Regions from separate parts of the Homo sapiens genome. Here region 2 is linked to region 1. Evidence: fine-mapped expression QTL. Tissue or cell type: whole blood. Region 1 holds a variant in brackets; the other region holds the start of a gene. All regions are shown on one strand. Distances are between the middles of the regions.

Region 1 (4,387 bases):
TCAAGCGGTTCTCCTGCCTCAAACTCCTGAGTAGCTGGGATTAAAGGTGCCCACTGGCCGGGCACGATGGCTCACCCCTGTAATCCCAGCACTTTGGGAGGCTGAGGCGGGTGGATCACCTGAGGTTGGGGGTTCGAGACCAGCCTGACCAACATGGAGAAACCCGTCTCTACTAAAAATACAAAATTAGCCAGGCTTGGTGGCACATGCCTGTAATCTCAGCTACTCAGGAGGCTGAGGCAGGAGAATCACTTGAACCTGGGAGGCGGAGGTTGTGTTGAGCCAAGATCGCACCATTGCACTCCACCCTGGGCAACAAGAGCAAAACTCCATCTCAAAAAATAAAAATAAAAAAATAAAGGCACCTGCCATCACGCCCAGCTAATTTTTGTATTTTTAGTAGAGATGGGGTTTCACCATGATGTCCAGGCTGGTCTCGAACTCCTGACCTCGTGATCTGCCCACCTCAGCCTCCCAAAGTGCTGGGATTACAGGTGTGATCCACTGCACCCAGCAAAACCCAGACTTCTTACCAACCTCTGAGGCCTGTGTGATCTGGTCCTGGCTGCCCCTCCATCATTCTGTCTCTCCCTTACTCCACTCAAGCCGCATGGGTTCCTTGCTGCTTCTGGATCCTGGCATAACTTCTTCCTGCCCAAGGGCCTTTGTAGTTGCTCTTTTCTCTGCCTGAAATGTTCTGCCCCTAGTATTTCCTTTCTGAGGCCTACATTTGGTTCAGCTTGCTGGTCACCTCCTCTGAGAGACTTTCCTTGACCTTCAGTTTAAAGTAGCCATGCTATTTCTAAATCCCTCTCCAGTCTTCTTGTAGTTTTGTCATAGCAACAGCCTCTACCTGGAATTTTCTTTTTGTTTGTGTACTTGTTTTTGTCTGTCTCTTCTATTAGAATATAAGCCCCATGATTATAGGGCGTTTGGTTTGTTCATCATTGTATCTCCAGTGTCTGCAGCTGTTCTTTGCAGGTAGTAAACATTCAGTGAATACTTTTTGAATAAATTATTAAACAAATGAACAAAACCTAAGACATGAAAAAACTGAGGCCCAGAGAAGAGAAGCTAATGAGAATTAATAGTGTTCTTTCATCCTACTTTTGAATGCTCATTAAGTGCCAAGCACTGTATTCAGTGATTTACATGCATTATTTTTGCCACTTATTCTTAATTGTTATAATGAGTTGTTTGGAACATCATTTTTTATATATACCACTGTACCACTTAAAAGAAAACTGGACCAATCTTATTTTTTATTGGAACCTTGCTCTGTTTTACAAAGAGTTGGAAGCAACTTAGGAAAATTCATACAACCAAAAGGATAATGTAGCTAAGGGAGTCGGGTGAAAGGAAAATATGGGTAAGAAGACGAGCCAAAAGTAAAATTAGTTCACACAAATGTATGTTACAAAAGTCCTTTGAACTGAGCAGTTTTTATGCCATTCTTTATAACTAAATATTGCCCAGATTCATTTAAAATGATGGTTTTTTAAAAATCTAACTACAGGCCGGGCGTGGTGGCTCACGCCTGTAATCCCAGCACTTTGGGAGGGCAAGGTGGGCAGATCATGAGGTCAGGAGATCAAGACCGTCTTGGCCAACATGGTGAAACCCTGTCTCTGCTAAAATACAAAAAATTAGCCAGGTGTGGTGGCGCGTGCCTGTAATCCCAGCTACTCAGGAGGCTGAGGCAGGAGAATCGCTTGAACCCAGGAGGCGGAGGTTGCAGTGAGCTGAGATCACACCACTGCACTCCGGCCTGGCGACAGAGCAAGACTCCGTCTCCAAAAAAAAAAAATCTAATTACATAGATGACCTTGGGATTGTCCC[A/C]GACTGCACCTAATAGTCTAGGATTTGCTGGCTCCCTTCCTGCCTCATCAGCTGGGCTCCTGGATTGAGGCAACACGATCTCCTCTTTTTGCCAAAGGGGCTGGTCCAGCAGGGAGGAGCCTAGACCCCTCTCCAGTCCTCTCTGGACCTAGCTAACTTTGTTTCAAGGAGTCTTTTCTGTAGAAGGTTTATTAATTGAGATATTGCCATTGGAAACCCAGTTCTGCTCTCAAGATACTTCCAGTTGAATTAGAGAGAAAAGACATAATATACATGAAAGGAGATCTTGTAAAAGCCAACAATAAATGCTAAATGCCAAATGAGGGAAGGACTTCACAGAAGAGGTGAGGTTTACACCGAGCCTTACCACAAAGCGGAGAAAAGAGGGGCTGTAGCTCCCAGTAGGAGAGTCAATGTGGGTTAAGATTTGCAGGCTGAGACCAACTCTCAAGAAGAGACCCGTGGGCAGTGGCAGTCAAATTTTAGGCATATGTGGAGGGGTCTCTTTCATTAGGTAATAAAGCCAAAAAGGTCAGCTAGAACCAGGTTTGTAGGATCTTCAAGTGCCAGGGGGAGGATTCCAAGGCCCTCCTTGGCAGCCCTGGTATCCCAATAGATAGGTCGTGCCCAGGGACTAATGCCCATGCTGGCCACTGGTTGGGCTGCTGATTCCCAGGTGGCAATGGCAGCTTCTGAAATGGGAGCCAGAGCCTTCAACTAATAGTGAGGGGAGGAGTTAAGTGTGGGGCCATTGTCAGTTTAGCTTTTGGCCATCCCAGGTGCTATTCATTTGGCGATTCGGCAAATGTTTATTGAGCACCAACTATGTGCCAGGCCCTGTGCTACATGCTGAAGATGCTAAGATAAACAAGATAAGGTCAAGGACATTGCTCTTGTAGAACTCTTACTTTAATGGGAGAGACAGCTAGCCCGAGAAACAAACAAGATTATTTCAGGGATTGGGTTAAATGCTGTACAGAAAATGAAACTGAGTAATGGAATATCTAGGAAGCAACTATATGCATGGGCCAACTCAGTTACTCAGCTTTGACACTGTTGGGTCTAGTTGGTACCTTTGTTTCCTTTTGTGTTATAGATGGAGGTGATCTTTCAAATCTCCTCTGCAGAGATCCAATGGGATAATGGTTGACTACCATTTATTGAGCACCTAGCCCATGTCAGGTACTCTACATGCATTTTCTCATTTAATTCCCTCACCTAGACTGTGTGCTAAATGGTCCATTAGCCCTACTTTCTTTTCCAGTAAAGAAACTAAGGTTTGGATAAGTGAAGTTGCATGCCAGGGTCCTGCAGCTTTACGTGGTGAATCCTGGATTTGGACCTAGATTGGGCTGGCTCTAAAGCCAGGCTTCTTTCCCCTGCTCCACTCTTGGAATAAATGAAGGATTGTTGGTTCAGGATATGCAGAAAGCTGCTTAGCAAAAGGAGAGTTGGAGAAGCATCTTGGTTTGAGGGTCTTGAAGGACACCTACTGTACTCCCAGCTGAGAGGACTCTTTCTCCTCATCTTCAGGAGGATGCCTCCAGAGCCTGGGGTTACTGTAGGCCTTTGCCAGAGGCATGTTCGGACTTAGCCAGCTGAGTATCCCCTGTTTCCTGCTTTTACCATCTCAGCTGCTGGTCAGGAGGTTTGGGAAGGTGACATCATCTAGCTGAATCAGCTGCTGCTTCTAGATACATTACTGGAACTGAAAGTCATTACCCCTTCCTTCCTGCTCTGCAAGTCTCTTCAGAATGAGGCTGGAGTATGGGTGTTCCACCTGTCTGCAGGGTCATGACTGGAATGGTACTTGCTGCTTTTAAAGAGCTAAAAGGTTTTTAAAAGCTTGTTCATGGAAAAAGCTTTCCTCAAGGCTTCTCAAGCTAAGGGAACAGAGCGTCCTTGAGAGGCAGGAGGATTCACAGGAAGGCCCTCCCCGACTCCCTCTTGTCCACCTACATTTAGCCATATGACCCTTCTGATCTCCTTTGCCTAAGTCCGAGGCTTAGGCCTAGCACTGTAGGATGGGTAAACAAAACGTTATTTGTGGACTTTTTGACCTTAAGACTTTTAGAGTCTGGTCAAGGGGACAAAAAAAAACTGCTTACATTTCAGAGCAGACCAGCCACCACACTATTGGAGATATATTGGAGATCTCCCCTTGACTCACTAATTGAAAAGCAAAAAAGGGCAGGTGTGGTGGCTCATGCCTGTAATCTGAGCACTTTAGGAGGCTGAGGCAGGCAGATTGCTTGAGCTTAGGAGTTTGAGACCAGCCTGGGCAACATGGCGAAACTCTGTCTCTACAAAAAAATACAAAAATTAGCCGGGTGTGGTGTTTCGCACCTGTATTCCCAGCTACTCGGGAGGCTGAGATGGGAGAAACACTTGAGTCCAGGAGGTCAAGGTTGCAGTGAGCCATGTTCACACCACTATACCCCAGCCTAGGTGACAAAGCGAGACCGTCTCCAAAAAAAAAAAGAAGGAAAATCGACTGGGTCCAGTAGCTCATGCCTGTAATCCCAAAACTTTGGGAGTCTGAGGTGGG
Region 2 (4,387 bases), 26 kb after region 1:
ATGGTGGTGCATGCCTGTAGTCCCAATTACTTGGGAGGCTGAGGCAGAAGAATCACTTGAACGTGGGAGGCAGAGGTTGCAGTGAGCCAAGATTGTGCCACTGCACTCCAGCCTGGGCGACAGAGTGAGACTCTGTCTCAAAAAAAAAAAAAAAAATTAAATAAGGATTTTTTTAATCCGCATTTTACAGATGAGGTCAAAAGCAAAATATCTTAATCTAGTTTGCAAGACTTATTGGTTCTCTGCCTGCTCTGTGCTCTGGCAGCCCAGCTTGGTAGAGAAGTAGAAATTAATTGCCTTTATCCAGATAGCACTTCCATTTCACAAATGAGACAACTGATACTTGGAGGAGAGCAGGAGAGCAGCAGCGGAGAGAGAGCAGAACTAAGACCAGCCAGTCAAGGGAGACAGAGGGAGACGAGCATCAGCTCCCTGACAGGGAAGAGTTTTCCAACGGGGCTGTCCGAAGATGAAATGTCCCACCCAGGAAGGAGGGAGCTCTCCATAAGTGCATAAGGAGAGAATGCCCTCGAGATGACTACCAACTCCCATGGGTGTGGACCATCAGAATGAAACAGACCCACTGTGGGACTTCAGCACTCCACCCTTCTGAACCCTGTCTGTGAAATGGGGGTGTTCGTGGTGAGCTTGAGTATTACATGGAAGGTTGGATGGGCATGCTGTAAGGTCCCTGGAGTCTCCGACTCTGTTCCAAGGGTGAGTATTGGTTTTTCTCACCCTGGACACTGGGAGAAGAATGGAGGGCTGTGGCCATCTACTTACGAAAGAATAGGGAGTCACCAGGGTTGAAATGAGAGAGTTGAGATGACGGGAGGCATCGGAATCCCAGGGGATGAGCCTATATGAGCACATAGCAGCCACCCAGGAACAGTTAAATGTTTGGACTCTGGAGACAGACTGCCTGTATTCAAATCCCAACTCTACCACTTGTGGCCTCTGTGACCTTGGGAGGGTGATTTATCCTCTCTGCCTCTGTTTCCTCATCTGTAAGCTGGAGAGTAATAACAGCATGTACTCGGTGGGATTATTGTGAGGATTAAGCAAATTCTTTACACACGAAGCACTTAGCACCATGCCTGGTACTTAGTAAACATCAGCTGTTTTATCTCCATCGGTTCCAGGGAAGGAGGTTATGAGCCCCCAAATGAGCATCTCTGCCCCCAGTAAATGCTTTTCTGAATTCTCTCTCTTTGCCCCCAAGCCCATCACCCTGGTTCTGAGCCAGAGAGATGGAGAGCCCACACTCGCACTGCTAGGCCTGATAGCTTTCTCGATTCCCCAGCGGAGGTGTTATCTCCTCCCGGCACAACCGCTTCCTTTTCTGAGAAATGCAAGTGCATCTGTCAGGCACAGCTTCTTAGAACTAATGGTGGGGGAGGAGGTGGAGGAGGAGAGGCTGGCAGCTGAATTGAACAGGTCAGAGTTGGAGGAAGATAAACATGAAGTTTGTTGTGAGGATACCACCAAATATTCCCTATAGCCCAGATGGCTTGAGCCCTCTATGACACCCCCTGATCTCACCACTACTGCTAGGGAGGTCAAGGCAGGAGAAACTGAGGCTCAGAAGCCAAAAGGCTTGCTGTGGCACCCACCCATACCTGGGCCGGCTGGACTGAGGTGTTGACCCCAACACAGTCTTGCCACCCCTCTCTTTGCCCTGCCTCCACTGAGCTGCTTCTCCAAGTTGCCCACCTCCAGGCCTATGTTTCCGTGGGGGAGAGGAGAAAGGCCATGTTCTTCTCACATCTCGGGAGCCAACAGCTCCCCTGGGAAAACCAGAGGAAGTGGATTCCAACCACAAACCTCACTTCTTCCGAGTCTCCGCCTGCAACTCCCTGCCAAAAGAGTGATAAGGCCTCTCCGTTTGCCCTACCCCCTTCCTACCATCTCCCAGCGATCTTCTAGCAAGGCCATGTTTGTCTATTCAGCACACATTTATCAGCCTCTCCCTCAGGGAAACTGAGGCCAGGAGCATAAGGTGACTCTGCAGGTGACTCACAGCCTGCCAATGCAGGGATGTGAGAAGGACAGAACAAGGTACAGTTCTGGTGTCCCTGGCACTTTTCCTGGCTGCTAGTAGCCTCTTCCTCTTCTCCACCTACCTCTTTCCTGAAATAACCAAGCAGGAAGGAAGCAATGGGCCTGGGCCCTCCAGAGTCACCCAAGAGGAAGGAAGGGTTCGTCTGGCACAGGCATGCTTGTTCCTCACTGAAGCCAGGACGGAAGGGTTTCACTTTCCCTCCTGGTCTTCGTCACATCCTTTTCCTGTGGCACCAGTTCCCCTCAGCTGGCAGGAGCCAGTGCTTATTCATTCAGCTGATGGCCTCAGGCTACTTTACCCTCCTTGACAGACCCAGGGCCATGGCCCTGGCTCAGAATATGGGGTTTGCTGCCAAACATACTGGGGCTTAAAAATGGCTTCCCTTTTTTTTTTTTTTTTTTTGAGACGGGGTCTCATTCTGTCGCCCTGGCTGGAGTGCAGTGGTGCTGTCACAGCTCACTGCAGTTTCAACCTCCCAGCCTCAAGCAATTCTCCCACTTCAGTCTCCTGAGTAGCTGGGACTATAGGTGCATGCCAACACACTCAGCTAAATTTCTAAGATTTTTCTTATAGAGATGGGGGTCCCACCATATTGCCCTGGCTGGTCTCGAACTCCTGAGCTCAAACAGTCTGCCCACCTTGAACTCTCAAAGATGCTGGGATTACAGGTGTGAGCCATCACAGCTAGCTGCCACTTATCCACTTTAGCTAGGTCTCAGTATCTCTGAGCCTCAGGTTACCTGGACTTAGAATGAAGGCCTTCCTCAGCCACAGAAGTACATGGACCTGGCCCATGATTGTCCTTTAGAAACTGAGCAGAGTACTGCATCAACGTTAGGAGTAAAGGCACTGAACCAGATTGCTGGTGTAGGCATCCCAGTTAGGTCACCAGCTCACTACATGGCCTTGAGCAATTCACAGATCATCTGTGGGCCACATATCCATCAGCTATATGGGTTAATGGTAGTACCCACTGACAGAGTGTAGAGACAACTAATGAACTAATCTACAAAAAAACCAAGAAGAGTACCTTACAGAGTATGTGCTCAGGAAGTGTGCGCTGCTGCTGAAGTCACTAAGGAAGTCAGGTTTTCTGTGGGTAGAGATAGCAGGGTCTAAGATGGCAAGATTGGACATCAGAATGAGTGTGAATGAAGTACTATCTTGGATAGATTAAAAGAAAAAGAATGGTGTGAGGCCAGAACTCAGACAGATCCTACTCTTGCCACTTCCTAGATAGGGATCTTGGGTAAATTCTGGAGCCTCCATTTTCACATATGTAAAATGGGGCTATTGATAAATGTTATGAGGATCAAATGAAAGCATTCATTTGTTCTTCTAAAATAGATTTATTTAGAATGGCATCTGCTGTGTTCCAAGTATAGCACACCAGGTTCTAGAGATACAGGTGACAGAGCCACACACAGTCAAGTGGGGGAGACAGGACAAAAAATAATCTCTCAAGTGAATATGATGATTGTACATGTAATTGGGAAATATGGCCTAGTGTGCATAGACTGCTTTATAGCTCAGTGCCCAGCACAGGTGAAACACTGAAATGTTTGGTAATGGTCAGCTGTCATAATAATAGTTTTTTGTTTCTTTGCTTTTATCTTTTGTTTTTTTGAGACAGGGTCTCACTCTGTTGCCCAGGCTGGAGTACAGTGGCCCCAAACATGATTCAATGCAGCCCTGACCTCCCAGGCTCAAAGATCCTCCTCAGCATCCTGAGTTGCTGAGACCATAGATGCATACCACCACACCCAGCTAATTTTTTTTTTTTTTTTAATTTTTTTGTAGAGACAGGGTCCTCCTGTGTTGCCCAGGCTGGTCTCAGACTCCTGGGCTCAAGCAATCCTCCTGCCTCAGCTCCTAAAGTATTTTATTACTGTTAACAAGTAAGGGCTGGGTGCGGTGGCTCATGTCTTTAATCCTAGCACTTTGGGAGGCCAAGGAAGGTGGATCACCTGAGGTCAGGAGTTCCAGACCAGCCTGGCCAACATAGTGGAACCCCACCTCTACTAAAATTACAAAAAATTAGCCAGGTGTGGTGGCGGGTGCCTGTAATCCCAGGCAACTTGGGAGACTAAGGCAGAAGAATTGCTTGAACCTGGGAGGCTGAGGTTGCAGTGAGCCAAGATCATGCCACTGCACTCCAGCCTGGGCAACAGAGTGAGAGGCTATCTCAAAAAAAAAAAAAAAAAAAAAGCAAGGACACCATGGACCAGAGAGGTGAAGTAACCTGCTCAAAGTCACACTACTTGGAAGAAGTGGGAAGGGTGGGCACAGTTGCTCATGCCTATAATCCCAGTACTTTGGAAGACC

Evidence for each region. PIP is the estimated chance that this variant, and not a neighbour inherited with it, causes the effect. A credible set is the group of variants that fine-mapping cannot tell apart.
Region 2: it holds the start of BCL2L1-AS1, and the variant in region 1 is the best candidate, but not a certain one, in a credible set for the expression of BCL2L1-AS1 in whole blood (INTERVAL, PIP 0.65).

The regions. Positions count from the first base shown.
Region 1 is chr20:31,698,480-31,702,866 of GRCh38, reverse strand. The region is part of intron 2 of BCL2L1 (BCL2 like 1); the gene reads left to right. The region is part of intron 3 of BCL2L1-AS1 (BCL2L1 antisense RNA 1); the gene reads right to left. Among named protein-coding and RNA genes, the nearest start is that of BCL2L1, 22 kb to the left of the region's middle. RefSeq lists enhancers at 3,433-3,482, 3,866-4,387. The variant A/C (reference allele first, on the strand shown) is at 1,840.
Region 2 is chr20:31,672,952-31,677,338 of GRCh38, reverse strand. It overlaps BCL2L1-AS1 (BCL2L1 antisense RNA 1), which reads right to left and starts at 2,231. Exons shown (of 4, transcript NR_187576.1): 1 at 2,124-2,231. The region is part of intron 2 of BCL2L1 (BCL2 like 1); the gene reads left to right. LOC124904883 (a long non-coding RNA gene) reads right to left here. Exons shown (of 3, transcript XR_007067559.1): 3 at 3,092-3,155. RefSeq lists a cis regulatory region at 1,311-1,328 and enhancers at 1,248-1,392, 1,629-1,728, 1,699-1,993, 2,326-2,375, 2,396-2,445 and 1 more.